4 linked regions of the Homo sapiens genome follow. The protein of the gene in region 2 purifies or fractionates together with the protein of the main gene of each other region. This does not show direct contact. Each region holds a gene or a part of one and is shown on either strand. Other genes may lie near its edges. The genes, in order: ATP2B2, EDNRB, XPO7 and LNPEP.

Evidence for each region.
Region 1: the proteins of EDNRB (region 2) and ATP2B2 purify together in Homo sapiens (affinity purification with mass spectrometry; 2 studies listed by BioGRID and IntAct, with this or other methods). This does not show direct contact.
Region 3: the proteins of EDNRB (region 2) and XPO7 purify together in Homo sapiens (affinity purification with mass spectrometry; 2 studies listed by BioGRID and IntAct, with this or other methods). This does not show direct contact.
Region 4: the proteins of EDNRB (region 2) and LNPEP purify together in Homo sapiens (affinity purification with mass spectrometry; 2 studies listed by BioGRID and IntAct, with this or other methods). This does not show direct contact.

Annotation. Positions count from the first base shown.
Region 1 is NC_000003.12:10,502,296-10,510,374, forward strand, and holds the start of ATP2B2 (plasma membrane calcium-transporting ATPase 2), read right to left. Parts: upstream 3,292-8,079; 5' UTR 3,170-3,291; intron 1-3,169. UniProt on the Homo sapiens protein: ATP-driven Ca(2+) ion pump involved in the maintenance of basal intracellular Ca(2+) levels in specialized cells of cerebellar circuit and vestibular and cochlear systems.
Region 2 is NC_000013.11:77,901,728-77,909,241, reverse strand, and holds part of EDNRB (endothelin receptor type B isoform 1 precursor), read left to right. Parts: intron 1-799; exon of another isoform or gene 800-1,550; intron 1,551-5,634; coding exon 5,635-5,747; intron 5,748-5,881; coding exon 5,882-6,086; intron 6,087-7,514. UniProt on the Homo sapiens protein: Non-specific receptor for endothelin 1, 2, and 3. Mediates its action by association with G proteins that activate a phosphatidylinositol-calcium second messenger system.
Region 3 is NC_000008.11:21,978,516-21,986,029, forward strand, and holds part of XPO7 (exportin-7), read left to right. Parts: intron 1-1,568; coding exon 1,569-1,688; intron 1,689-3,215; coding exon 3,216-3,362; intron 3,363-4,124; coding exon 4,125-4,297; intron 4,298-6,130; coding exon 6,131-6,324; intron 6,325-7,070; coding exon 7,071-7,176; intron 7,177-7,514.
Region 4 is NC_000005.10:97,022,948-97,030,461, forward strand, and holds part of LNPEP (leucyl-cystinyl aminopeptidase), read left to right. Parts: intron 1-1,573; coding exon 1,574-1,735; intron 1,736-3,669; coding exon 3,670-3,810; intron 3,811-4,785; coding exon 4,786-4,867; intron 4,868-5,454; coding exon 5,455-5,586; 3' UTR 5,587-7,514. UniProt on the Homo sapiens protein: Release of an N-terminal amino acid, cleaves before cysteine, leucine as well as other amino acids. Degrades peptide hormones such as oxytocin, vasopressin and angiotensin III, and plays a role in maintaining homeostasis during pregnancy.

The sequences.
Region 1 (8,079 bases), on a different chromosome or scaffold from region 2:
GTGGCATAAAACAGGGCAGAGATAGGCCTGCCTGGCCACAGATGAGAAGATTGAGGGCAGAGAGAGGAAGTGACTTGGCCAAGATCACACAGCTGGTCAGGAGCAGGGCTGGGCCCAGGGCTCTCATACTTTCCACCCACAGTCAAACACCTGGGGAAAACCAGGGGCCAACACAGGCCTCTGCTGCTTCTTGTCTGGGGCCTGAGAGCACTTGCAAGAAGCCCAGGTCTCTACAGAACACGGTGTGACCTTGGACAAGTCCCTGTGCCTGGCTGGGCCACAGTTTCCTTTTTATAAACGGTCCCAGCTAGGTGGCCTCAGAAGGCATCTGTCTGCTTTGGCTTTCTAGGCATCAGCAACTCCATAGGGTAAAGGGACGACACAGCGGTCCGGCTGCCTAGGTCAGGGCCACGCCCGCCTGGGGAAGGCTCCTCCGCCTTCACCCATAGGAGATCCTCTTCACTCTTTCTCGGAATCTTGCCACAAAATTCTAAGTTCTTGAGCTATAGGTTCCCAAAATTTTGGTACCCCAATTTGAACTGGCCTCATGCCGAAGGGTCAAAGAGGGTAGTTGGGCACCTGGTGGCCTGCCTTCTACCTCCCCTCTGCCACATGCCAGCTGTGTGACCTTGGGTGACACAGCTTCACCTCTCTAGATACAGCGTCCTCATCTGGGACGTGGGGATAACAGGGCTATGGGCGTCCTCACTGAGATGATACGTGCAAAGCAGTTAGCTGGGTGAATGCTAGCTGGATTACTATTATTTACTTGGGTCCCCTGACCCATACCTGCGCCTGAGCTGGGGGAACGCAGAGGAGGGCAGCGGGACAGCACAGGAGGGTGCCAGCATTTCAGGCTCTGCATACAACGTAAGCCACAGCAGCTTCTCTGACCTTCAGTCTGGAGGGGACTTTGGAGTCTGCTGAAGGTGTTCCAGGCCCCAGCTCTCAGAGACCCCATAGCAGCGGGCTGGTTTCCTGATGCCAGGGAGAGGGCTGGTGGGGCCAGTCTGGGCTCCTGGCGGTCTGGGCCACGGGCAGCAGCTGCGTCCCTGGCCGCCTCTGTCTCCTTTCCAACTTTGGGCAGCCTTCTCTGAAGAACATCAATAACCCAAGATGGCCTTGCTGAGTCTAATCACAGCTCCCTGGGAATACGGGCTGGCCCTCCCCCAACGCCTGTGTGAGGCTGTGGCGGGCACTTAGGATCCAGTATCCCTCTGTCCTCATCGGAAGTCCCTTAAGGGGCAAGCTCTCCCTAGCACCCACAGAGCCACCTTGCCTCCTGGAAGCTGAGGGGGCGGGTGTGTGCACGCAGCATCCGCAGAGGTGCTGCATCTGTGTGCCTGTGGCCGTCTTCTTATGTGTGCAACTGACATTCACCTGTGGGCACATTCCAGCATGCCATGTGCCTGCCAATGCACGGGCAGGCACGCAGATGGCATTCAGAGCCCCACATGTGTGTGCCTGTTGTTTTCACACCTGAGCCAGCCCTCAGGTGGGTACACACATTTCTGGCTGTTGCAGGGCACTGTGTGCAGCCTACTGCTTTCCCGTGTTAGTGCTACATGCATGTGTGGGCAAGCTGCATGCACAGGTGTGTATGTGTGTACTGCATTCGTGTGTGTGCTGTGTTTTGCACGTGAGCATGTGGTGTTCAGGAACGTGGGTTGTATTTACAGGTGCTGGGGTGTGGGCATGGGCATTCCATATGTGTATATATGATTTGGACATATATGACGCACTACTTATGGGTACTATATTTGTATCTGTGCATATGTGTGAATTTGTGGGCATGCATATGCCCTGATGTGAATGGGACTAGGGTGTGAAGGTGGCTAAATAATGGTGGCCATCAGCATCTTTCCTGGACCCCCAACCCCCCACAGGACTCCCCAGAGCTGCAGCCCCTTCTTTGCCACTGCTCCTTCAACGAAGTTAACAGGCGGAGGCCCCCAAGGCCTGCGCTCCAAGCCCCCTCCTACTGCACACGTCAAAGGAGAATTTCTCCGGATGGCGCCCGCTGATCCTGGAAATACCCCAAACGTCAGCTCTGCCTCCTCCCAGCGATTCGGAGAGCAATGCAGGAGAGGAGGGAGCCCCTTCCACGCTGGGCTCAGGGCATGCAGCGTCGCACTAAGACCCTCTGCCGGCTGGTCGGGCTTGCCTGCTCACTTACCCTTCTGAAGGTCGAGCCAGGCTGGGCCTCTGCATGGAGGGCCCGAGACCCCCAGGGCCCTTGCCTGATTGGGGCAGGCCAGTCCAGAGCACCCCCCCAACCCCCAACCCCCAACCTGGGTGAGCAGAGGACAGCCGTGGTGTGGAATAGCTACTTGGCTAGAAAGGGGTTGCTGCTGTCCGCAACCCACCCTCAGGGAGTCCTGAGGCCCCCTGCTGCATTTTCCCATCCTGACCCTGCAGGGGGCAGGGAGGAGCCTCAGGTGCCCTATCCCTCAGCTGGAGACCACTGAGGCTGGCCTAGGAAGTGGGCTTCTGGGCAGAGGGTGCCGACTCCACCACCCAGCATGACTGCTGCAAAATGGCCTGGCCACCCGTTCCTGCCACCCTCCTGGCCATGGAGGGGACCCAGGAACACGTCCCTGCCACCACATGACCCGGCTGGCCTGACCCAATGAGTCCCAGCACACAGCTGCCCACCCCACCAAAGGGACGCTTCACAGGGGCCTCCTCCTGCCTCTTTCCTGGGACTCTGACCAGGGTGGGCAACGGGCACCCTCCAGTCCTCTTGGTCTCCCTGGGACCGGCTCAGAGAGAAGAGAACCTTGTCCCCTGCCACCAGCTTGCTGGCCCTTGCATAACATCCTTAGGGGGCATTTGCAGTCCAGAGGCTGCCGGAATCTACCTGAGACCCTGGGCATCCGCTTGTCCGAGGCCCCCCTGTCCTAGTCCCCAGCATCCAGCCGTCCCCCACAACACGCGGACCCTCACACTAGTGTCTCCCTCAGCGGCGGCTCCCAGTGCAGCCTCGGCTGCTGCCAGATAAACAAGCCCTGCTCCCACCCCCCCTCCACGCTGCCACCGCCACCACCATCAGCACTGAGAAAAATCAAATGAAATGAAACAAAATAAAATGGGTGAGGGAGGAAGGGGAGAGTGGAGTGGGGCGCTTTTTATTTTTTATTTTCTCATGCTGGGGGATGCCGGTACTTACTTGGCTATGAAAATCACCACCAATCCTGCACGGTTTCCCGGCGGGCAGCCCCGTAATCGCGGTGCGGCAGCTGGTGCCGCGGCTGAGCCCAGCCAGCGTGCCCGGGCCCCTCTGCAGACTGTACCATCCTGCCCGAGCGGGTGGGGGGCGGGGGGCGGAGGCGCCGGCGCCGGTTCTAGGAGAGCATCTCGCCGGCAAAATGCAATCTCGGGGGAGGCAGAGGCCGCCCCTGCCGCTGCCGGAGGCTGGGGGATGGGGGCGGGAGGAGGGAGGGAGGGAGGGACACAGGGAGGGCCGGTTCTGGAGGGGGCACGGGGGAGGAGAGTGGGGGGCGGGGGGGGTGTGTGGACCGAACCACCACGCTGTTGTTTGCGGTTTTAATTCCTCCCGTGGGATCATGAGGAACCGAAGCTGGCAGAGTCCCAGGAATATGCCCGCTCCCCAGAAGCAGGAGGGAATGTCAAGGGCACGGAGAGGGTAGGGCTGGGCTGTGCTGGAGGGAAGGGGGTCCTGAGAGTGGTGGTGGGGAGAACGGGAGCAGAGAGGGGAGGATTTTGCTCAAATGGCCCCAAGTCGTCCCTTGCTTTCTGGGGGACTTATTTGGTCAGGGGCTCTGGCCCCCCTCTTTGCAGTCAAGGCACCCCCAGACCTGGGGGGCAAAGGGGCAAAGGTCGCAAATGGGGAGAAGTCGACTCAACACATTTTAAACACATCTGTGTTTCCAGGGCCAGTGGAGCTGAGCCCGCAGCAGCTCTCTGCTGCCCTGAAGCGCTACCCCTGCGACCCGCCCTGCCTGTGTGCGACCCCACCTGCCCTCGGGGGGGTGTGGTGGTGGGGGCTGGCTTGGCAGAAGGGCCTGCCTCAAGAAGGTGCCCACCAGCAGGGGTGTCTGCATGTCTGTACACCCACCTAATCTTCAGGACATCTATGATGAGTTGCAGGCCGACTGTGGGCTGACTGACACTTCCACGGGAACCCAGGGACCCCGGGTGAGGAGTCGGTAGGGTTGGAAGCCCCTAGCCAGCTGCTCACCTCTTCCTGCCTAATCTCTGCCAGACTTGCTGCTCTTTCAACTCCAGATGGGTGGGAGGAGAGCCCTAAGAGCAAGGTTAGGAGGTCACCGGGGGCGAGGGGCTTCTCTAGAATTCTGAAGCCTTGGCCTCCACTGCCCTGCCCCCTCCAGGAGGGGTACCCTGCTTGGAGGGAGGGCACTGAAGGTGGAAGGACCTTCAGGACCAGTGTCTCAGGGCACCTGTCAGGGTGGAGGGGTGCATGGGGGACAGGGGCAGGGCTGGAGGCGGCCCCGGGAGGCAGTTCCAGGCAGAAGCTGCCTCTTTCCCCTGCCCCCACCTCCTGCCCACCTCTGAGCTGCCCGCCCGAGCGTCCCGAGCTGCCGCTCCATCCCTGGGCTGGCACAGAATACCAATTTGTCTCGTTAAGCTGAAAGTCTGCACTGCACCAAAATCAGAACCCGGCCGTGCAGAGGGGCCACGGGAGGGAGACAGTTGGGAGCGCCTGAGGTGGGTCTCCCACCAGTAGGCCATGCTGAGACCTCCTTGCTCCTCAGCCCCCAGCCCCATGGAAGGGTGCCCACCTGCCCCTTAGCCCGCAGGGTGGCCTCAACGCAGGGAGGATGCTGCGAAGCTACGATGTCAAGGGCCGGGTGGTCATTCAAGGCCTTGGCCTCCACTGGGGCAAGGGTGTGAGTCAGAGGCCAGGCAAGGCTCCCTGCTGGGGTTCTGACAGAGCAGCCCAGGACACCCCTCAGGGAGGCTCTCGACCCCACACCAATAGCCCAAGACTGGGGGCTTCCAAAGCAGCCTCATCTCTGCTTCATCTTGCGGGTGCAGATGGGAACTCTACCCCTCTTAGGGGTGTAGTTGGGGGGATTCCACTGGCCACCCCTCTAGGTGGTCTTCTAAGTCAGCAGTCCCTAGTCAGCTCCACCCCAGGGACCAGGGCCAAGCATCTGCCCTTCCCCAAGGCCCACAGGCTCTCCGTTCCCCAAAACAGGCCCGTGTAAAGCTGTTCCGAGATGTTGGAGCGAGGGTGGGCAAAGACGGGCAGAGGCGGAAAGGCCCATTGCACCTCCCATCTGTTGCCAGCCTACATGTCTGTGCCAGGAATCCCACCATTATTACTTCAACATCTTTGGCGGTAAACTGCTTTCCCTGCTTACAAAATAGCCCGAGAAGCAGCCTGTTATGAGCCACACATTTCAACAATCACACTGCCTTCTGTGTCCGGCACACTTTACAGTTTGTAAAGGCCACCTACAAAACAGTAAATCATTTGATCCTCCCAACTACCTCTGGGGTGGCTGCCGTGAGCACCCAAGGTACAGATGGGGAAGCTCTGTGTAGTTCAGGGGGATGTGGTGGCCAGGGCAAGGTGGCACAACCAGTAAAGAGTAGACCAAACTTGTGACGGAGGCCTCTGGACTCCAAGCCCAGGGCTGCCTGCATGCGCAGGCCATCATGAGTGTGGGCTCACTGGGAGCCCTGACACTCGTCCGCTCCCAAGTCTTGAGTCTTACCTTCCCGGTGGTCCCTGTCTGAGACGGGCTGGGCTCTCACCAACGCACACTAGCAGCCAAACTCTCAGGCAGTTGTGGATTTTGGTTTTCAGACCCTAAGACTAGAACTGCCACCTGGCCGAGTTCCCATCTCCTTGACATTCCAGATCCCATGTCTTTCAGCGCCTGCATCCACCCCGCAGTGACTGGATGCCCCTATCTCCTGAGGCAGTGCAAATATTGAACAGCAAAGTTTGAAGGTTTTTCCTTGTGGGTATACCCCAGTTCTAGGCCCACCCTACTCATTCTTCGAAGTCCAACTCAAATTCTGCTTCCCCAGACAGTCCTTCCTGATTCCACCAACTGAGTTGGTTCATGCCTCTGTTCTACCTCTGACCACACTGTATTGTGATGGTCTACACGTCTGTCTCCCTCACTGGGCTGTGACCACATCAGACATGTCTCCAGCATTCCAGGTCTCAGGTCCCAGCATGTGTTAGATGGTGCAGTAAAGGCTTGAATGAGTCTGCTGGACCCTTGAGAACTCCTATCCAATTCTCCCATTTTACAGTTCAGCAAACCGAAGCCTCAAGAAAAAGATCAGGGCTTGCCTAAGGTCATTCTTGAGGGTGGAATCTGGCTGCAGACATCTGTCCCTTGCCCCGTCCCCTTTGCCTTCTCTTCCTGCAGCAGATACACCTGGGTCATCTGGCCTGGCCTTCCAGGATGTGTTGGGGGGCAGGGGGTATTGGACAGGCAGAGGTGTTGTGAAATTAGACAAACAATGGCACTAGTGTTGCAACTCCAGGAAGGTTGGAAATGACAGGTCAGGGTCAGCCACAGGGAAGAGGGGGAAAGAGGCAAGAGGCCAGCTGGGAGGATTACTGATAGCTTCTGCCTCCAGCATGATTTGGCTTATGGTGGACACCGATTGAGAGTCAGGGTTAGGGAAAGGTATGAGACATAGGGGAGGGGGACGGAAGGAGGAGCCAGCCAATCTGATTTTTACTCTGTGTTTAGTTGGCCAGACCATGTTTTTCTCCCTTGGGGAGGGGTCCTGGAGCTGAGACACAGGGTGAGTGAATAGGGTCAGTCTGTCTAGGAATGGGGACACAGAACTTGGCCCAGGCTGCTGGAGGCTCTCTGCACAAGGGCAATAGAGGAGGCTCTCTGCACGAAGGCAATAGAGGAGGTAGGTCCAGGCAGGTCTGAGGGGAGAGGACTGAATGTAATTAGAGGCCAGCTGTGTCTTCGGTATGAGACGTGGGCTCTCTGTTTTTGCTCTTCTTTCTGGGAAGCATGGATGAGGGCTACCCCTGCCCTTGCCTTGCCTGGCTCGGGGTCTGTAGACACCTGGGTAGGAGTTCTGGGGCAGCTCTCAGGTCACTGCTGCCCCAAAGAGCTGTCAGCTGGGTTCCCCGGGGGATAAGAAGGTATTTCCAAAGGTCTCTCACATTCCTGTCTCCTCTGACCCCCACAGATCACCCTCAAAGAGCCCAGGCTTCTTCCCATTTTACAGAAAAGAAAATTGAGACCTGGAGACCACAGGGCCTTACGTGAAAGTTACAGAGCCAGTGAGGACCAAAGCAAGATTGAGGGTCCCACTCAAACCCTAGGCCCCTCTCTCTGCGCCTGCCTAAAGTTACCCAAGTTTGAAGCACACAACTCAGGATCTCTAGCCCCAGACCTTGACGGGCCGTGGACTGTGGATCCAGGGGACCACACGGGCTGGCTTGCCCGAAATCTCCTCTCCAGTCACATGGAAGCCTCGCATCCACTCCCCACTCCCACCAAGGCCTGAAACTCCCTCAGCCAACCAGATCTCGAGTGGAGGCTTTGTGGCCACACAGACCTGGGTCCAACTCCCAGCTCTCTCACTTACAGGATGTGTGACCTTGGGCAAGTGACTCGACCTCCCTGAGTCCCAGGTTTTTTTCATCTGCAAAATGGGTATGATAATACCTATTTGGCGGGGTTGCAAGTTAAAGGAGAATGGCAACTGTTATTAGTGGAAGAAACAGAAGGTGAGAGTCTCCAGCAGGCCCCAGGGAAAATGCTGGCGGAGAGTAGGTGGCTTCCAACTCCTCTGGCTGGTAGATAAGGGTTCCCAGATAGCATCTGCAGGGCTGAGGCTGGTCTGGTCTCTAGTCTATTGAGATTTGAACGCAGGTCACCAATTCTCCCCTCCTCCTACTGGTCCTTGCTCCCTCAGGGAGGAGGTTGTAGGCCTGGCTTCTGGCGAATTCTGGCCAGCCACCATTCACACTGACATCCTACTATGTGCCAGGCATTCTGTGCACACACCTCGTGTGTTCCTCACAAAACCCTGGGAGGTGGATCCTATTTTTATTCCCATTTTACCGATGAGGAAACTGAGGTACAGGTAAAACATTGT
Region 2 (7,514 bases):
TTTGGATTCTCTTGCCTTGTTTCTTTCTCAAGCAGCTGTTCCAAGGTAAAGTTATAAAATCACGGTCTTTCTTGAGTAGAAATCTTTTAGCCAGTATGGCCACACCTTTTTTCAATCTAGTGTTTATTTATTTGTGTTTATCATCCAAAAGAAATGTTCTAGAGAAGCAGTATAAGCCTTAGGGTAAAATGGGTCAGCACAAACATAGGCTATCATTTTGTCAAATGGATACCATATTGCCAGCAGGACTTAACACTAACAACAGCTATTCAGTTAGATGAGACATCATGATATGAAAACCAGTGCCAGTTATGTGAGTATTGCCAACTGGCTCATATTTGATCAATGTTAGGTAACATATATTCAACTGAATTTTAAACAGGATTTAAAATTTTAATTTATGTGGAAGCGACATAGTGTCAATATTAAACTCTAAACACCCTTTTTGCGATCAGAGAGACAGCCTTTTGATTACATGTTTGAATTGTCTTCACTGTTCAGACCTTGCCCTTAAGTTATCTAATTTAATGGGGTAAAGTCCAAAGAAAAAACTAAAAATAGGGAATAAGGAATGTGTTATTGCTGGGTTTAAAGTTAGAGTTGCTTCCTCTTGCAATAAAGTGAATCCATTTCCTCTTCAGTGGGGAAAGCTGTATCCTTAGACTTCAAATTATTGATGTTAGATGTTGTTATTTTTCCCAAAGAATGATGAAGAAATGAATGTCTAAGAATCATACCCATCTATAAGAACAATCTCTCACCAAATTTTAAAGATGGCATCTTGGTTGAGAGTGAATTTTTTTTTTTTTTTTTTTGGCAAAACTTCATAGTTTTTCCCCACCAGGGATACCTTTATATTTTAGGTAAGCTTCAAGCACTAGCTTGCCTAAAGACTTTCTTGCTAGAGGCCATTAAGATGACAGAGATGAGCATCAATAGTGGGCATGGTTTCTGTCACAGAGTATCAGGCTTTGCTGGGTCTCCACAAAGCCTTCTGATCAGTGAGGCAGAGGTTAAGATTTTTAAAGGAAGAGCGTTTAGAGTCTCGCCAAAGCCATCCTTCTCACTACAAAATAATGGAAGCAACAGTGCATGCTCTTCCCACATCTTCTATGGCCTTCCAGAGCCAATAGCATCCAGTTCTAAATTGAAAGCATGAAATGCTGAAAGCTGATAAAGGTTAATGCTCTCTCTCTCTTTTTTTTTTTTTTTTTTTTTTTGCAGTCTCTTTCCCTTCAAAAGTGTAGACTAGAAAACTGTAATCTCTCCGTGGTGATTACGTGTCTGACTATCTCTCTGTTGAGCTTGAAGAGCATTGTTATAATTTTCAGTTTGTGTTTCCCTGTTTTCTGTGATAGCTTGGGTCAGAGGTTGGGCTGCAGGCCTCCAGTGGTATGAAGAGCAATAATCCAATTTCTAGGCTGAGCCAAAAACAATGGAAACCTCAAAACATGGCCTGGATTCAGTGCAGAGCTCATTTTCATCAGCCAGACTTCTTTCCCTTCAATGGTCTGGACGCTCATTCATCTTGATTCTTCTGATAGCCATACCTACAGGATAACAATATTAACATATTTGGAAATAATTTAAGACAGAATAAAATATTTTAAAATATCCAAATGTTTGTACATTATTTGAATAAAATAACTAGGGGGATTAGTCAGGGTTCTCCAGAGAAACAGAACCAGTGGGATAGATAGATGGATGGATAGGTAGATAGGTAGTTAGTAGACAGACAGATAAATAGATAATGAGGAATTGGTTTATGAGATTATAGAGGCTAAGAAGTCCCATAATTGGCCATTTGCAAGCTGCAAATATAGGAAAGCCAGTGGTGTAATTCAGTCCAAGTCCAAAGGCCTGAGAAACCAGTCTGAGGGCCAGGGGAGATGAAATGAGACATTCCAGATAGGAAGAAAAAGGGGCAAATTCCTTCTGCCTCTGCCTTTTGTTCTATTCAGGCCCTCAAGAGATTGGATAATGGCCACCCACCTAGGGTAAGGCAATCTGCTGTTCTGAGTCCACAAATTCATATACTAATTTCTTCCAGACACATCCTCACAGACACACTCAGAAATAGAGAATGTTTAATTGAGCAACCAGTGGCTGGTCAAGTTAACACATAAAGTTAACCATCGCACTAGGTGAGCAGAAGATTTTGCTCTGCATCTAGATATTTTACTATTATTTGACACATAGCTATAGGTTTAAAAAAAATTTGATTTAATTCTAAACATTTTGTTTTGTACAATCACCTCCTTCAAACCACTGTCGGGCAGGTATTATAGTGGTTGTAAGCATAGGCTCTAGACCATCTGGGTTCAAATGTGGATCTATTACTCACTTAAGTGAGCAAACAAATGCAAGCAGGCATGTGGGTTTCCTAATGAATAACAAATTACCCTACAATTTAGTGGCTTAAAACAGTAAATATTTTTTAAATCACATTGTGTCTTTGGTTTGGCAATTAAGGAGTGGCTTAGTTGGGTGGCCCTGGCTTAGGGTCTCTCAAGAAGGTACATTTAAAATACTGGCTGGGGATGCAGTTGTCCAAACGTTTGTCTAAAGCTGGAGGATCCTCTTATTCACAGACGTGGCAAATTAGTGCTTGATGTTTTCAAGAGGCCTCAGTTCTTTGCCATCTGGTTTCTCCACAGAGGTGCTTGAGTGTCCTCATGACATGGCAGCTGGCCTCCCCCAGAATAAGTGTTCCAAGAGAGAGGAAGCCAGTTCTTTAGGAACTAGTGTCAGACATCACACATCATCACTTTTGTCACATTGTATTCATTGAAAACAAATCACTAAGTCCAATCCACATTCAAAGGCAGGGAAATTAGGCTTCATGTTTTGAAGGGAGGAGTAATCAATAGCAGAATATTGTCTGAATAAGTTGTACCAGGCTGGGTCTAGCATAATCCTTGAAACCAGTTGGATAATTTTTATTCTTATTTCTAAGGGTAATTGGCAGTTCTTTTAAAGCTACATGGGTTCAAAGCTGGTTCAGACCTGTGGTGCACTGAGTCTCCCCCATTTCAGTAAATGGCTTCACCATGCACATGGTAAACCTCTGTGAGTGTCCTGACTTCCAACATCATGTGTCCAACCCATCAGCAAGTCCTGCTAGCTACCTCTACCCTTAAAATATATACAGCCTATAACCCGCTCTTCACAGCCTCAGGGCGCACAGGATCCAGCTCACCACTAGTTCTCATCAGTGCTTCCTTTCTTGGCCCTACATTCTATTCTACACTGGGCAGCAACAGTGATCTCTTGAAAAATATGTTAGATCATGCCATTTCCCTTCTTCAAACCTTGCAATGAACTCCCTCAAAAAAAGCATTCAAATTCTTCCCTCTACAACTTCATTTTCCATGCATTTGGGCTGGGTCAGTCTTCTCCAGCTTTAGTAGCTAGTAGCCTCATTGCTGTACCTCCAGTTCACCAGGCTTGTTTTGACCTCAGGGCGTTTGCACATGCTCTTGCCTCTGCCTAGAATGCTCTTCGCATGGCTTACTGTCTTATTTCAGTCAAGTCTCTCCTCAAATGCTGTCTCTTCAGGGTGACCTTACTGAGAAGCTTATCAAGAAAACACCTCAAATCCCACCCTCACTCAATATGATCACAGCCTCTGTTTAACACCATTTTAAGTATGTATGTGTTTTTTGTCTGCCTCCCTCACTATAGTGTAAACTCCATGAGAGCAGGAGTGCTCAGAATGGTGTCTGGCACATAGTGAATGCTCAATAAATATTCATTGAATGAATGAATGAACAAGCAGAATTAATGAGTCAGTTGATTAACCCAGAAGTCACAAGATAGAGGCTATGATGGCTCACAGATGTATTTTGATAATACAATGTTATATGAGAGTTTTTTAAAAATATATATGAATTGGACTTTAATAAATTGTGAGATTCATATAAAAATTCCAATCTGGGTTCTTTAGAAAAATCAAGAGATTTTTGTATTTGGAGCCCCTTAGCAAAAAGTATGTGATGTCTACTAGCAGCTGCTCCTTTCAGACAAAGTTTACCCCAGACCCCACCCCACTCCCTGTCATCTTCCTGACACCAATGACTTTCTGAGACCTGGCACCCTCCACTTCTCTGTGTTACCTGCCTGGCCCTGTAGGTCTTCAGGATCCTACATTAAGCATATATATGATAAGTCTGCCAACTTTTGTCCTACATGTCTGTGTAAGTTTTGATATCTAACTTAGAAATGAAGTTGGTCCTATGTTGAATCTCCAAGTCAAATTCATTATGAGACAAACATTTTAGCCTTTGACGTCATTCTAGTTATAGAACAATCAACTCAGCTTGACAAACTCGGTAGAGTCTTCACTACTAGTGAAAGGATGGAAAGACTCCATTGTGTCTCAAAATAATTTTCACTTTTGCAAGGTTGTTTTTCAAACTATTTTTAAGACCCATGGATTTGAAATACTTTTATTTTCAAAACCTCATGAACATTTGATCCAGATGTTCACCTAAAATGATTCATTTACCAGTGTGGGACACACCATATTGTCCTAAGAAAGAAAATAACCACATTTAATAATAGATGGTTTCATAGTCTGCAGTCAGATAAAGAGAAATATATACGTGTACATATATACACACTATATATATATAACATACTATGTGTGTGTATAAATATATATCTATAATAGCAATAACTATGTCTTCTTGCTCCTTATACAGCCAGTCACTGTTATATTTTAGAGTCTATGAATCAAGCACTGTTAATATTAAACATCTGCTATGTGTCAGGCACTGTTCTAGGCAGTTGTGGAGCTCATAGTCTGTCTTACACTCCAGGGATCCAGACAGAAAAAAATCTAAGCAAACAAATAAGTTAATGTGTTATGCCACAGGAATTGATAGACTATGGATAAAAAGGAAAAGAGAGTAGGGAGATAGGGATGTCTGACCGGTTACGGTATCTAATAGTGTGATCAAGGTAAGTCATGTTGAAAAGATGAAATTTGAGTAAGACCTGAAGGAGATAAGCGAGTTAACCAGGTGAATCTGTGGGGAAAGAGCCTTCTAGGATAAGGAAGGACCTACAGCGAAAGCCCTAAGTAGGAATGTGCCTGGTGTGTTTGAGCAACTGTGTAGCTACTCCTACTGAATGATTGTTCAGTTAGGTAAACTGACTGCAATGAAGAACAAGTGCCTGAATGCACATGCTGTTCTGCATGGAGTACTACTTCAGTAGGGAAGTCTGGTCTCCTCAGCTAAGGACTGTTTATCATTCAATTTTAATTAACCCATATTTTGCTTTGGCCATGATCTGGGCATTTCAGACTCCATGACAGTATACAGGTTCAATTTTCAGGAGGAACTTAAGCGACTGGCTCAAGTTTGCTCTGATGAGGTGAGCTGAACTCTAAGCTACTGTATACGCATGATGACTTCTTATAAGCTGGCTGCATTTTCATCAATCCCAACACACTTTCCTGTCCCATACATATATCAAACAATGGTGCTTTTCAAAGAAGTAGTCCATGAGAAAAAGAATGACAACCAGAGTTTATCCTACTCTGCATGTTAATTACTCTTCACTAAGTGATACAATTCAGAGGGCATCTTATGAAACCCCCTAACAGAGCTTCGTGTCTTCTCAATGCAGCTGCTGGCAGAGGACTGGCCATTTGGAGCTGAGATGTGTAAGCTGGTGCCTTTCATACAGAAAGCCTCTGTGGGAATCACTGTGCTGAGTCTATGTGCTCTGAGTATTGACAGGTAGAAGCTTCTATTTAATCCAAGTATATTCTGAATATATACTATTGTTTTCCATGTTACTTAGAAAATAAACTGTGCAATTCAATAAAACTAAGGTATGCCAGCTTAAAATACAATTCTATTTTTATCTTCAGATATCGAGCTGTTGCTTCTTGGAGTAGAATTAAAGGAATTGGGGTTCCAAAATGGACAGCAGTAGAAATTGTTTTGATTTGGGTGGTCTCTGTGGTTCTGGCTGTCCCTGAAGCCATAGGTTTTGATATAATTACGATGGACTACAAAGGAAGTTATCTGCGAATCTGCTTGCTTCATCCCGTTCAGAAGACAGCTTTCATGCAGGTAAATTTCACTTTTTTTATTTTCCTTTCTGCTCTTGCCTTATAAATATTTAGCTATTTTTCCCCTGTTCCCCACTCCTTGGGAAACTGTTGATTTATGACTGTCCTTGGCATAAATTAAGAGTATAGATCCAAGGACTGTGGAGTTAATGGTGATCAATGACTCAAGCTGCAAGAAGCTAGATCACTACTTCTCTAAGAATCCCCTTGATCTCAGTGGCATAGATAAACCAGGTCCACATGAAAGAATTGATGTGAATTTATAGCTTTCTACCTAAAGCCATGTTAGAAGTAAAATGTTTGGTGCCACAAAGTGAAAATAGCACTCAGGCAAAAGTTTTCTCAGCAAGGCAATTTACTTCTATAGAAGGTTGTGTCTCACAATGGAGCAATGGCGAGAGCACACCAGACAAGGGAGGGGAAGGGGGTGTTATCCCTGATGTAGCTAGTTCCCACTGCTGCATCTTTCCCCTATTGGGTAGGGTTGGACCGCACAGTCTAAGTTAATTCCAATTGGCTATTTTAAAAAGAGCAGGGGTACGAGCTGGAGTGGTGGGGTGAGTAGTTTCAGCGGGAAGGACAGTTACAGAGCAGGTGGCTAAGGATGACTAAGGTCAGAGCAGGTGGCTAAGGATGACTAAGGACAGAGCAGGTGACTAAGGATGACTAAGGACAGAGCAGGTGATGAAGGATAACTAAGGAAAGAGCAGGTGATAGAGGCTAGGAGGGGGTTGTTTACTGAAACTAGGGGCAAGGAGATGTAAAGAATGAGGGAGTTAAACTTTAAAATGGAGAACAAAGAACAGGGAAGCTGAACACACTGACATATTGGTTCTTTGAAGAGGAATTTACTGTATCCTACAGCCCCATAAGGACTGACAACTACTACGTAATCTGCACAAGATAGCCCAGTAGTTGTCAGAGGAATGGATGGTCCAGCAAATATTCAGATAGAAGTCACCCTGATATGGATGGAGTCTGAATGGCAAGACTCCCCTCTCTCTGTCTTTGATGCCAAAAAGAAAGCTGCCATTGCAAGAAACTTTTCATCCTGGTCATTTATTAAAGAACATTTGATTAGGGAATAGAAAAAGAATGATGATACTCGTTTCCAGAAGATAGATCCTGAGTGTAAAAGGCTCTTCCCAACAGAATGAGTTAAGAGACATTAATGCAAAGGGGGCTGGCTTAACTATTCCCAATGATTATTTTCTATTGAATATATAAGGAGACTAAATAAAACTTTATGAACTGTATATATCATGATAAGTAAAAGAATCAAGGACATAATGTGAAATTGAAAATGAAATTGCTATTTCCTTGTTTCCTATTAGTAAAAAGAAAAAAAAAGTGCTGCCTAGGTTACATAATTTCCTCTCCAACACAGATATATCTAAAGCAATATGAAAAAGATAACAGAGAAGAAAAA
Region 3 (7,514 bases), on a different chromosome or scaffold from region 2:
CCTTTGTGTTCGCTGAAACATGATTTCAGTGTTGTCGGGTGTATCGTTAAGGTTACTGCAAGAAAAGGTAGCACAGTCAAGAGGGATGATTAAGAGAGTACTACTTGCAAAGGTATGGGTAAAATTAAGGGACACCAGCACGGGGTGGTGGTGCATGCCCCTGGGGCTGGCAGTAGTGGGGAGCCTCAAAGGGCAAGTGAAGGAAACCTGGAGAGAGTTGAAGCTGTGTCTTAGAGGAGGGCTGGACAACAAGAACTACAGCCATCACTAGAGAAACTCTGCCACTGCATAGCCAGCTGGATGGTCGGAAGAGGGGTACCCTGTTCCCTCTGCCCTCTAATCTCCTGCTGGTACTTTCCATTGGTTGAAGCCAACTAGAAGCCAGAGGGCAAGGGAGCTTGGCTGCTCTCCTCAACAGAGGTCAGCCTCCTAGGGAATAGGGCAGGGTGGAAAAGGGTCGAAAGCAGATCTAGAGGGGGCAAACAGAGAATGTAAATATCTAACACAGTGGGAACAGAGGGAAATGTCTTCAGGGATAAAGCTGGGTTGTGTTTTTTTGTTTGTTTGTTTGAGGCAGAGTTTTGATCTTGTTGCCCATGCTAGAGTGGAATGGCACTACCCATGGGTTCAAGCGATTCTCCTGCCTCAGCCTCCTGAGTAGCTGGAATTACAGGCATGAGCCACCACGCCCGGCTAATTTTATATTTTCAGTAGAGACAGGGTTTCTCCATGTTGGTCAGGCTGGTCTCAAACTCCCGACCTCAGGTGATCTGCCTGTTTCAGCCTCCCAAAGTGCTGGGATTACGGGCGTGAGCCACCACACCTGGCCAAAGCTGGCTTTTTTAGGGCCCAGATGTGATATGCTTATTTCTTTTTTTTTTCTTTTTTTTTTTCGTTTTTTTTTGTTTTTGAGACGGAGTCTCTCACTGTTGCCCGGGCTGGAGTGCAGTGGCGCGATCTCGGCTCACTGCAGCCTCCGCCTCCCAGCTTCAAGCGATTCTCCTCCCTCAGCCTCCCAAGTACCTGGGATTACACGTGCCTGCCACCACGCCCAGCTAATTTTTTGTATTTTTGGTAGAGATGAGGTTTCACTATGTTTGCCAGGCTGGTCTCAAATTCCTGACCTCGTGATCTGCCTGCCTCAGCCTCCCAGAGTGCTGGGATTACAGGCGTGAGCCACCACACCCGGCCGATACGCTTATTTCTTTATAGCATGTAATGACATAAGCACATAACATCTACATGTCAAACTCAGATTAGCCAAGAAAACTAAATCTAAAACTTTAAAGTATAAATTGCTCGATATTTTTAAGGGTGAAATAACGTATCTCAGCAAGAACAAAGATGCCATTGGAGTGGTCAAAGGAATTTGTACCTAAGGGAATTTCCAAACTGAATTTAATGGGCTGCCGTGGTCTGCTTGGATCTATGTTCTTTTCTTTTCTCTTTTTAAAATAATGTTGCTTCAGATATCCTAAAGAAGGATATTGTAGGAGGTGGAACGTTTCTGGTGAAAGTAACTGTACAGTCTTTTTAATCGTTGTGTTTGGGTTCTGCCCTGCATTTAGGTATTATCCTGCTTGGTACAGATCGCTTCAGTCAGAAGATCCCTGTTTAACAATGCAGAGAGGGCCAAGTTTCTCTCTCATCTTGTTGATGGTGTTAAACGAATACTGGAAAACCCACAGGTAAGTTTATCTGAGAATTTACATATGTATAGGATTAGTGTATGGCCAGCTGTTATGAGTCAGAAGGAAATCCATCCCAAGGCCCAGTAAACAATTCAGTCTGTTCTTCAGGGAAGACTGAAGTGAATCTCTATTTGTAGGCCAATTCTGAGATTATTTGCCCAAAAGAGGAGCTTATATCCTCCCGCTTCAGAAATGTAGGAGTTACAGGAAAGAATCACTTCGCTATAAGGAAATAAGGAAGAAGCTAGTCATTTTTCCCCCCAAGAAGTTAAGACTCTAACATCTCCGGGCACAGAGGCTCACGCCTGTAATCCCAACAGTTTGGGAGGCCAAGGTGGGCAGATCACTTGAGGTCAGGAGCTCAAGACCAGCCTGGCCAACATAGTGAAACCCTGTCTCTACTAAAACTACAAAAAAAATTAGCCGGCCATGGTGGCACGTGCCTGTAATCCCAGCTACTCGGGAGGCTGAGGCAGGAGAATCGCTTGAACCCGGGAGGCAGAAGTTGCAGTGAGCCGAGATCATGCCATTGCACTCCAGCTTGGGCGACAGAGTAAGACTCCGTCTCAAAAAAAAAAAAAAAACTAACATTTGGTTTTTGATTTTGTTTACCATTTTTAAAAAATGTTTATCGGTAACCTAAGTATATAGGGCTGCTTTTAGGTGGGAAGGAAGATACTTCTTTCAAACGTTAATTTCATAACTCGATTGCCCTTTTTGTCTTTTGAAGTCCCAGTGATTCAGTATTTTTTTGAAAGTATCACTTCTCTATACTAGAAGAAAATTAAAAAGCAGTTTATTTCAAAATATACTCAGTTTTGTCCCTCTTTTTAAAATTCATTTATTCATTCAACAAATTACATTGAATACCTACTCTGTGCCAGGGATACACGGGTGAACAAAACAAAGTCTTAGCCCACATATGCTAACAGAAGAAGACATATCAGGAAACTTACAATTAAATATACTGGTAGAATAGATTTTAAAATAGCTGTAATATTTGCTATATCATATAAATACTACTATATGAATAAATTACAGTAAGTGATATAAATATATGAAACATTTGTATAACTTTGCTAACTATCGGTTAGTTGTGCTGAATGATCAGTTTGACAGACGTGGAAATGAAAATTTCATTAGATTTCCTTTGATTGGTAACAATAAGAAAACAAGTCAGTCACGTCTTAGGTCGTGCCCACTTCTGCTATAATGAGCTTTACAGCCTCAGTGTGATCCTCCTGGGCTTCTGTTTCAAACTCTGTCCATTGAGGCTAATAATGTCATCTCATGTGATTATTATTGTGAACATATGAGATAATAAATGTGACTGTCCCTTTTCAAAGTGACTTTAAAAAATTGTTTCTGAACATTATGCAGACGTATCATTCTGAATCATGACCTGCAGCCCAGAAGTTAAAAAGTAGATTCTACCCCTTCCCCCATGCCATCTCAAGTATACATCATTCTTGAAGTATGTTAAGGCACATTTTACATTTTATTTTTCTCCTCTGCTACTGCCAGAGTTTATCAGACCCAAACAATTACCATGAGTTTTGCAGACTACTGGCCCGATTGAAGAGTAACTATCAACTGGGAGAATTGGTAAAGGTGGAAAACTACCCTGAGGTCATCCGATTGATAGCCAACTTCACAGTGACCAGCCTACAGGTTTGTCTTTGATTACTTGTGTCTTCCTTCCTAAATACTGGAATCTCTTGCTTGTTGGTTTTAACCATGTAAGAATATATTTTTTTTTCTTGGCAAAGGTAACCATAAGTCCAGTATAGCCCTACAGAGTAGTTACTATTGTGGCCTGTGATTTACATTTACACAAGTGCAAGTAGTGTGGGGAGAGGAACATGTGGGAATTACTAGGATAATATTTAGATTCATCCCAGAGAGAATTAGCTCATAGTCACCCCAAAAAAGCCAAGGTCGGAACAGGGAGCTAGACAGAAGAGTAAAAAGAGAGTTGATGCCCTCTCTTTCTTAGTCATGTAATATAGAACAATGGGTCTCAAATTTTATGGCTTGTATCACAGTCATCTAGGGGACTGATGAAAAAATATAGATTCTTGAGTCTTATCCCCATAATTTCTGGTTCAGTAGGTCCAGGGTAGAGCCTTGGTGTTTCTAACAAGTTCTTCAGGTGATTGTCATGCATACTAATGGTTGAGACCCACTTACATATGGCTTTCCTTATGGTAAGGCTTACACAGCCAGCATAGAGTAGCCCTTCTCATTAGATGCTTAATCTTGAAAATACTAATAAACACATTAAACTAGATGCCATACACAGAACAAAGCCCACAAAAGTCTATCCTCTTTTTTTAAAAAAAAGAAAAAAGTCTTTATCTTCTGTGTCAGTGGCATGGGACTAACACGTACAGAAATGAAAAATATGCCTTCTGCTTTTCTACTTTTCTTTAGCACTGGGAATTTGCTCCAAATAGTGTGCACTATCTTCTGAGCCTGTGGCAGCGGCTGGCAGCCTCTGTGCCGTATGTCAAAGCCACAGAGCCCCACATGCTGGAAACTTACACTCCTGAGGTCACCAAAGCCTACATCACATCCCGGTTGGAATCTGTGCACATCATACTGAGGTAAGGAAACTTAGCCTCATTCATTCCCGCACCAGTGGCCTGTTGTCACACTTCCTAGAGATCAGACACCCCATTGGCAAAGAGGTACTCGAAGCGTGTCTCATTGGAGCCACTACTGTTCATGGTTCTTCTTCCTTGTCAGCAGAGTAGCATGAGAGCATAAAGCCTGATAGAATAGTCTTGTCTCTTGAACATTTATATTCTATTCATATTCCCCCTTTTCACTGTCCATAGCAATATCTTTGAATAGAGTATATCCATATAATGTTTGTCCTTGCCGCTGTTTTTCTTTCAATGTGAGAAACATTTATAAGATATAGATGATAAGAATTATGTGTAACTTATAGGTGCTTAATGTGAACTCCTAAAGAAATAAGTGGATAAAGATTACACAATCTAGTTATCAATTCTAATTCCAGAGCTAGAACACATAAGAATTCTAAGCCACTGATCACTGATTGCTTTACATTCATACATGGTTTCTGTCTACATTGACTTAACTGAACCAAAATCCCGTAGCTAAAGAAATGTCAAGCCCTTTCAAAAATTACCTATATTAAATGAAGTTATAGCCCTGTTTAGGTAGCTTTCTTGTTTTCACTGGCTGTTTGTCAAGAGAATTTACTTGGAGTCTAAGGGTCTGGGGCCTTTTTAAGTTGGATTCTTAATTTGCTTAGCCCCAAGTGCATTGAATAGTCATGAGTTATAGTCTTAACTGTTGATGACTTGAATCAGTTCAAAATCTGAGTATTCATGAAGTTCACCAGCAAGCCTTCTTCTGTCACCTCCATAGCTTCCACTCCTGAGGATTCGGCTGGCTTCAGTGAGGCATTGTTGGGGAGTGGTTACATGTTTGTAGGCTCTGGGGCCGGATAGCCAGTTAGTAGCTCTGTACTCTTGGGCAAGTTGCTCCATTTCTGTATTTGTAAAATTCAAATAATAATAGGCCTGCCTCATAAGGTTCTTACAAGGATTAAATTAATATGACCTGGCACAGTGTGTAGCACATGGTAAGCACACAGCTAGTTTTAGTGCTGCTGCTCCTGCTGCTGCTGCTGCTGCCATTATCATATTGCAGTGTAACAACAGAAGAGCTCCTCATTGGACAAGATGTTAAAATCTAGGAGCTGGCAGATAAGGCAAGACCTAGTACAGGGCCACAATGCCTTGTCTGCAATTCCAAAGTCAAAGATGTGACAAAAGAAATTTCCTCATCAGTTTGGCATTAGAATTCACTTGTTACAAAACCGGACGGGAGTTGGTATGAGACCATTTGTAGTTTTTTTAAAATCCTACTTAGTATGACCATTTATAATATTCATAAGTTTTGCTACAGGAACGTTGAGTTTGATGTGCCACAAAGCCCATCAAGGGTTTTATATGATATGGTAGAAGCATCATACTGCCTTCCTCCAATTTGAACAGTTCTGAATTCCAAGACACACCTGGCCACAATGGCCTCCCACACAGGACTGTGTACTTATCCTACAGTTTACTATAGTCAAGAACAAGCGAAAGACTAAGAGTCAAGAGGTCAGACAGTTGAGAAGGGCAGGACTTTGAGGTTTAAGGCAGAAAAACATTAAGAGTTGAGAATTCAGATTGTAAGATTTGACACCAACAAGCAGAATATACCTAAGGGAGACTGATGCTAGGGCGAAGACATTGGCCTTCTGCCTCATTAAACATTCTTCCTTGGTTAAAAGTAATGTCGGGATGTAGACCTCTACAGTCAGAAATGGTGGCTAAGTGAAGAAGTCAGAGAGCTGCTATATTGGGCAAATCAGTAGTCATATTTTAAGAGAGCTGCCTTCCTTCTTCCCTTGGGAATAGAGATGGCCTGGAAGATCCCCTGGAGGATACGGGGCTGGTCCAGCAGCAGTTGGACCAGCTGTCCACCATTGGGCGTTGTGAATATGAGAAGACGTGTGCACTCCTCGTGCAGTTGTTTGACCAGTCGGCCCAGTCGTACCAGGAGCTGCTACAGAGCGCCAGCGCAAGCCCAATGGACATTGCAGTGCAGGAGGGTGAGTGTGCAGCGTGCTGGGAACTCTAGACCTGTGAGGAGATGTTGTCTAGTACCCCTTCGCTCATTGCCACCTCTTTCCTACCTCCCTGCAAAAGGATTCTTTCATCATCTGTTGTCTCCATATGCACAAGAATCTTTATGAATGAATAAATCCCTCAAGGGACTAGGGAAGAAGAACTGAAATCACATCTGCAGTGGGATTTTGTTTTAAGAGATGAGGTCTCGCTATGTTGCCACGTGGGCCTTGTACTTCTTGGCTCAAGTGATCCTCCTGCCTCAGCCTCCCGAAGTAGCTGGGACTACAGGCATGTGCCACCACACCTGGCTCCTGTCTGCTTTTTAATGCCCCACAGCACAGCTGGGACCAGGCCAAGAGGTTTATGACTGCTAAATCAAGGGCCAGGGGAAACAGGGAGATAAGTACAGATAGTAACCTGGGCTTCCTCTTTTTACCGGGCCTGGCTGGTGTTTGTAACATGGCACTGTGCCCAGCTTGGGTGTTTTTAACTCTAAGGAAATACTACACTAAAAATAATGGCCTTGTCTGATACAGGAACATTGGTTACCTAACGAATTTCCCTCTTAGCATTGCCCTTACCAAAGCAGAGAAGTAGCCATTCTCTGTAAGAAAAGTAAGACTTCATGGTTTCACCACAGTGTTCTTAAGATTAAGGAAGTTCAGAGTGAGGAATGTCTTCAAGAAACTATCACTGGAGGTGACACTGGGTCTGTCTCCTGCTGCAGGAAGGCTGACATGGCTGGTTTACATTATTGGAGCAGTGATCGGTGGCCGGGTTTCTTTTGCCAGCACTGATGAGCAAGACGCCATGGATGGTGAGCTTGTCTGTCGGTAAGTGCTCCCCACAGAAGCTCTCCACTCTGCCTTGCTGGCACTTCTCCACTCCCCGATAGGGTCCTCTCCACTTACAGAACGTAATCTGAACATGCTAACTGCCCATGAGACACAGCTTTCAAGGCTTTTGTAAGTGCCATGATAACTCTGCCTATGATCTTTACTTTAAAATAAAAAACCAGCAATAATTCAGAAAGGAAATAATGGATACGGAATTAGGAAAACTAAAGCAGAGATTCTCTGTTAGGTCTTTTTACGAATAGTATCTCAGAGTTAGTAAAATATGGACTGCTTTTGCCATCCCAAAATAAGTCTAAAAGGAAACTGCAGTTCTT
Region 4 (7,514 bases), on a different chromosome or scaffold from region 2:
AACCATTTTTTACTGTACAGTTCAGTAGTGTTAAGCATATTCACATTATTGTGTACTATATTTTCAGAACTTTTACATCTTGCAAAACTGAAACTCTGTACCCATTGAATAATTCCTCACTCCCTCTCCCCACCAGCCCCTGGTAACCACTATTCTACTTCCTGTTTTTGTGAGGTTGACTACACTGTATATCTCATATAAGTAAAGTCATATAGAATTTGCTTTTTTGTGACTGGCTCATTTCATTTACCATAACGTCTTCAAGGTTCTTCCATGTTGTAGCATGCATTAAAATTTCTTTCTTTCTTTCTTTTCTTTTTTTTGGAGATGGAGTCTTGCTCTGTCACCCAGGCTGGAGTGCAGTGGCGCGATCTCAGCTCATTGCAACCTCCACTTCTCGGGTTCCATTGATTCTCCTGCCCCAGTATCCGGAGTAGCTGGGATTACAGGCATCCGCCACCACACCTGGCTAATTTTTGTATATTTAGTAGAGACGGGGTTTCACCATGTTAGCCAGGCTGGTCTTGAACTCCTGACCTCAGAAAATCTGCCCACCTAGGCCTCCCAAAGTGCTGGGATTATAGGCATGAGCCACCATACCTGGCTAAAATTTCTTTCTTTTTAAAGGCTGAATAATTTTCCATTGTATGTATATACCACATTTTGTTTATCCATTCATTCCTGGATAGACCTTTGTGCTGCTTGTACCTTTTAGCTATTGTGAATAATAATGCCATGAACATTGGTGTGCAAATATCTCCTAGAGACCCTGCTTTCAATTCTTTTGGAAATACACCTGGAAGTAGTATTGCTGGATCATATGGTAATTCTAATTTTAATTTTTTGAGGAACTGCCATATTGTTTTCTACAGCAGCTGCACCATCATTCCAATTTCTCTACATCCTTGCCAACACTTGCCATTTTCTGGGTTTTTGATAGCAGCCATCCTAATGGGTGTGAGGTGATAAACAAGTCTCTTAATTTAGAAATAAAACATAGCAGGTAGAGTTAGCAGTTAACAGAAAAGCTTTTGGGGGTAATTAGTTCTCTCCAGCTCCTTACCGTGCATTATGGAGAGAAGATTCAAGCATCAGATGAAGAGTTGGGGTGGAGGATTTGGATAACGTTTTGAGGTCTTTCCCAGCTCTGAGATCTTAATAAAGGCAGTAGACTGTGTTTTCTCCCTGCACCCCATTTACTGCTATAGTTCTACCATGAAACTTATCACACTGAATTGTAATGCATATAGTTATTGCTCTATACTTCGTAGTAGCCTGTGAGTTCTCAGAGGACAGAGGCTCTCATTCCTTTTCCGCTCCCTAGTGTCCAGCCAGTCGCCTGCCTGGTTCTTTGTGAGTACTCTGTGAATATTAAATTGAACTGATGTATCCATAGACACACTACTAGGAAGATAGCAGTCACTGAATTAAACTTTTTCTCAACCCTAAATTGTGTACTCAAACTTGTTATTATTACCAACCCTCACACCAGAAACTCCACCACAGCCAACTCTTCGCCTTTGTATTCAGAATATTTTCTTGTTATTCTCATGTTTGACCACCTCTCTTACAGCCTACCTACTGATGTCATGACAACTGTGTTCAAAGTTGGAGCAAAAACTGACAAAGGCTGGTCATTCCTTTTGGGCAAATACATTTCTATAGGCTCTGAAGCAGAGAAGAACAAAATACTAGAAGCACTTGCCAGCTCAGAGGATGTGCGGAAGCTTTACTGGTATGAAATCACCGAGGAATATGATATACAGAAACCAAAAGAATACAAACACTGTGCTCTTGGTCAGGAGCTCATTTTTGAGGGGATCTCTTTTCCCCACTTCTGTTACAGGCCAGGCCTAAGTTGGACAGTGTGGTGAGGAGACTACAGGTGCTGGGCTTTATCTTTATGGACAAGCAGAAAATCCTTTGCCCAAAAGGGATTACAAGATGTCAGGAGTCACAGCCCCCTCCTACTCCTTGCTCAAAAAGTCTTCCTCCCCTTGGAATGTTGTCTTATACACCACAATTGGTACTCCATAGTTTAGGACCAAGGCATTGCTTTGTGCAAGCTGTCATTTTAAAAATGTAGGCATTTCAGAAAAAAAAAATCACATATTAAACCTTCTAGGTTCTACGTTCATATGAATTTATTTGTCAGACTTTTCCTTTTTAATATGTAGTGATGAAGGCCCAGAAGTAGGAGTGTCATATGGATGAAGGTAGGGCAGTAAGTAGGGCCTCCTGACAGGAAGAACAGGCAGTGGTGGGGTAGAGGAGCTCTACATAGCCAAGAGGAATATAGAGGTATCTGCTGTAGAGAGCACAGGTGTTAGAAGTCGCACTGAGGATAGAAGGAGGCTTCTGGGTCTCATTACTTCTGTTGTATGATTTTGCTCAGATAAATCTTAATAGTGTCCCAGAGATGTCCTCAGTACCTGTCCAGACCCACTTACCAAAAGATACGCTGTAAATAGTCATTTTCTTTAAAGTATTAGCCAGCCTCTGACTTAAGCAAATAGAGAAAAATCACTGTTTTTAAACTATGCTAGTAATACACTAAGAATGCCCATGATAAAGAATTTAAACAGTACCTAAGAATATAGAGTAAAATATGAAAGTATTTCTCATGATCCTTCACTTCCATTCTCGTTTTCTCTGTTAACAACAGTGTCAGTCCTGGTCTTTGTATTCATCTGTGGGAATGGATATTTGTACATATGTACGTACATACATACACACATACCTACATATTTAACTGCATTTTAAAAACCATATTAGGTTTATACCATACCCAGTGTTTTGTGACCATCTTTTTAGTGAATGATCAGTCTATGAGATTTTCCATGTCACTTCATGAAGCCTGCTTTATATATAAAAAAAAACTAAAGTGTTTTATGGGTTCATAATATTCTGTAGTATGGCCCTATCATAATTTATTTAATCCATCACGTTTTGTTGGGCTTTTGTTTTTTTCTCTCCTAAAAATACTGCCACAGTCTTGGAGTGGGGCGTGGTTTCTCACTATAAACAGATAGTATAGCATAGTAGATGAGAACTGCTTTTGTTCAGATGTCGGGCTTTGGTATTTATTACTGTGTGACTGTGGGTCAATTAGATAACCTCAGTTTCTTCAACTATAAAATTGAGTTAGGTAGTATTAATAAATACCTACTTTATAGCATTGTTGTGTCAAGGACTTAGAACATTATTTAGTACATAGTGTCAGTAAATGTTTGCTACGAACATTAATAAGAGTATATTCTGAAATGTATCCTAATTTTCAAATAATTCAAATGACCTAGTTTTTTTTAAGAATAGTAATATAATTAACCTGCCCATTCAAATCAAATAAGGTTTTTACCAGAAAAAAATACCCACCTCCCGAATTGTAATAAATTCTACCAGAACTTATTTCCTAAATGTTTTTACTATTTAAAAACTATTTATTGTCATGTGACAATATAGGTAAATGCCTATTTTATTGGTGAGTTCTTTCTTCATTTAAAAAAAATGACATTTTCAATCTATAGATCAACCGTAGACTAATGCAACAGTTATTTCTCAATTTGCTACACAGCTTTAATTAGGAAACCATACTAATTTTAATTTAAGTTCAGTCATCACTTCTTCATGAATAATAATTTTGGAGGCTAAATCTGCTTTGCTCTTCAGGTTAATGAAAAGTAGCCTGAATGGAGATAACTTCCGAACACAGAAGCTGTCTTTTATCATTAGAACAGTGGGTCGACATTTTCCTGGACACTTACTGGCATGGGATTTTGTCAAAGAGAACTGGAATAAGCTTGTACAGAAGTAAGTTTCTCAGAGAATTATTAACTTTTAGTATTCTCAAGTTGTGCATTTGAAAAAAGCTCCCAGTGTTTTGGCTCACAGAAGTTAGGATTTGCTGTGAGAGGAAAAATACTTCCATGACAGTTTAACTGAAACATCCGGAAATTTTCACATTTGTTAACATAATTCCATAGCATGAATCATTTAACAGTAGCATTCCATCTAAGTTCTAATTAAGCCTAGCCTTGCTTGGCACCAGGTTACTTAGCTCAGCGTGGCTACAGACTATTTCATAGCAACCATTTAGCTATGCATATTGAAAAATACCTCTGTATGGCCGGGCGCGGTGGCTCACACCTTTAATCCCAGCACTTTGGGAGGCCGAGATGGGCGGATCACGAGGTCAGGAGATCGAGACCATCCTGGCTAACACGGTGAAACCCCATTTCCACTAAAAATACCAAAAATTAGCCGGGCATGGTGGCGGGTGCCTGTAGTCCCAGCTACTTGGGAGGCTGAGGCAAGAGAATGGTGTGAATCTGGGAGGCAGAACTTGCAGTGAGCCGAGATTGTGCCACTGCACTCCAGCCTAGGCAACAGGGCGAGACTCCGTCTCAAAAAAAAAAAACAAAAAGGAAAATACCTCTGCATTGCCAAGGCATCAGTTAAGAACTCACATTCAGCTAGATGCAGATGTAGGTTTTTTGCTTCTTTCTCTCTTTTAAATCAATAATGGCATTTCTGGGTGTACAGTGTGATCTTCGACAATGTTAAGCGGATTAATTGTCTGCATGTTCTGAACTCTTCCCTTTTTCTGCCCACCTTTCCTTCCCACCGACAATAAGTATGCATAGGGCTACCCCGGTTTCCTCAGTTGCAGTTCCGGGAGGAGGATTCCACTCTGGCTTTGGCATTAAAGACTTTTCCTTGCACTCAGGAACAACGCTTTACCAGCAGCTGCCTAATCTTTTTGCTCTTGTTTTTGTGTTTCTTCAGGTTCCCTCTGGGGTCCTATACCATACAAAATATTGTTGCTGGATCAACTTACCTGTTTTCAACAAAGACACATTTATCTGAGGTTGGTTTTATAAAATGATAATACAGAGACTGGGCAACCCTCCGCACACCCGGACCAGGCTGCTCAGTTTTAGTGAGATGGTGGATTTTCATGCTAATTCCTTCTCTTATCTCTGTCTTCCTTTATCAGTACTAATGATTCTGCATTGTGATTACTTCTAGAGGGTGGCATATATGATAATGAGGAAAAAATCTGATTCCATTCTCTTCCCTTGTCTCCCTAATACAAATAATTTAAGTGGTCATAAAATTGTTTGGAAGAATTGCATTCTTGGGGTGAATTCATAGCACCAAGCCTTTGGACTCTACTTTATTTATTGTTACTTAAACATCTCCTTGGTTCCATTTTAAGTTAGAAAAATGTATCTGTGTGGGAGTAAAAAGATTTCCTTTTTAAAATCATTTCAGATATCACCATACTTGATTGGGAACTCCATGTAGATACCTTGAATATTAAAGTACTTCTTTCTACTGCTTTCAAGATAGCAGCACAGCCATCACTAAGTTAAAGCTTATTTTAAAAGCTGGGGTTACCTGAGGTTTATCGTCCTTTTCTTCTTTTGAAATTCTTCTGTGTGAAACTTACAGGTTCAGGCATTCTTTGAAAATCAGTCAGAGGCAACCTTCCGGCTTCGTTGTGTCCAGGAGGCTTTGGAAGTCATTCAGTTGAATATCCAGTGGATGGAGAAGAACCTCAAAAGTCTCACATGGTGGCTGTAGCATGCACAACCGCACCTCATTTTGTTGCCCATTCAGAGAGCTTGTAAGCTTGGGCTCTGCCGCTTTTGCAAAAGCCAAGGTAAAGCCAGGATCGCTGCCAAGTTGTTTGCACTCTTTGGAGTTCTAGTTAGCTCAGGGCCTGACTGTATTTTTCATCCATCTTTTCTGAAGTGTCTTTGGGCAGTATGTAGTTATTTATTACAAAATTATATTCACCTAAATGCCAACCATCTACAAAAACAATGAGTAATTTTTCTACTTTGAAGATACACAGATGGGGACAAAAACCCTGTTTTGGAATTCTGTTCTATTCCTCAGTATCCAGAAAGTTACTGACACAGTAAAACAAGGAAAGTTCTACCCTAAGAGCCGCCATCACTTCAGGCCGCTGGTTTGTCAGCCATCTGTTGCTTCTTATTGATAGATGGCATTGGAATGTGGTACAAAGTTAGCTCTGAAGAATATGGTAACGAAGACAATAAAGCATGCACTGTAAGAACTGACCTCAGGTGTGCAGATCTACTTTGATTTGGGGTTTTGATTAATTCTTTATTTTTCTGAAAAAAAGTTTAAATAATGTCTGTAACTATTGTGTTTTTTTCCTGCCGAATAGCCAGGTGCTACAGATTTTTAAAATTTTTGTTGTATTGAAAAGCTAAACAAGGCCAAAAGGTTAAATTTTTTGAATATTTAAGACTTTCTTTTTCATCTTTTATAGCGTTACCATAGGAAACTGTTCCAAACTGAGTTAGCTTTAATTATAATTATTTTATTCATAAATGGTGATAGTCCCCAGATCTGTACACCTTTATCACTCCCTGCCGTAGATATACTTTAGGTTAGTATTTCTACATTCGTGGCAAGCATTTTGGTAACACCAGTGGTTTTCATTGTGACTTTTATCACTATCACTAAGAATGCAATTTAAGTTGCCTTTTGGCATCATAGATCATAGAAACTTTCTCTCTGAATCATACCCATGTGTGAATTTTCATTTTATATGATAGTGTAGCATATTAGAAGCATATTTTAAAACAGAGCCTTTGAGAAATTGAAAAACAATTATTTGAAGTTCACCATAGTACCTTAAAGGAACAAAGAGAATGTGGGATAGGAGTAACTTGAATTCGTGTTTAGTATGGTGGGCTTTGAATTTTTTTCACTATCAAAAATAGTGCTTTTGTTTAGTTAAAAATTGTAGTTTTTCTTTTTTTGTGTGTCCAAACTAACATAAAAGGAGTGGTCAAAGAAGGAAAGAAGAAAAATGAGGGAGGATGTCCGAAACTGTATGGCATTTTACTCCTTCTGAAAGAGAAATACTGTACTTGAATTTTTGAGCTATGCAGACTTATACCTAGATTGTTGTGTTTCTTTGATTCTTAGGAGAAAAGCTTTCTTCCTAATAATTCTTGAGAACTTTATATTTTGTTTGAAAACAGTTTCTATGTACATAAAAAGGGTATTTACCCATTTGTGAGCACTTAAAACACTCCACAGAGTCAGACAGTGGGAAAGGTCACCCTTTTTTTATTCGGCAGGTATCAAGTTAGAATGTATGGAATTGTGAATAAAATTATATTTTATTTTATGAAAATATTTTTATATAATAAAATTTAAAAGGCTGGTAAGCTAAAAAAATAGTCTTCTTTAATCCTAGTGTGTTTTCCCCAATTTAGTCTTTTCTAAAATTTATCTGTTTTAGAGTAGAAAATATTATATCCTGAGAATCACAGAATCATCTAAATATGTCTTATTCAACTGAAGTGATTGTAAGTCTTTATTCTTGTGCTTTGGTTAAATGAATGATAATTTAGTTGATAGTGAAAGTTAATGTGTTTTTATATTTTTAGAGTGAGGGAAAAATACTAAACTTTTGAGAGTTTTGTTGTCGTTGCTGGTTTTTTACCATGTGGTACTAAATTCCACTT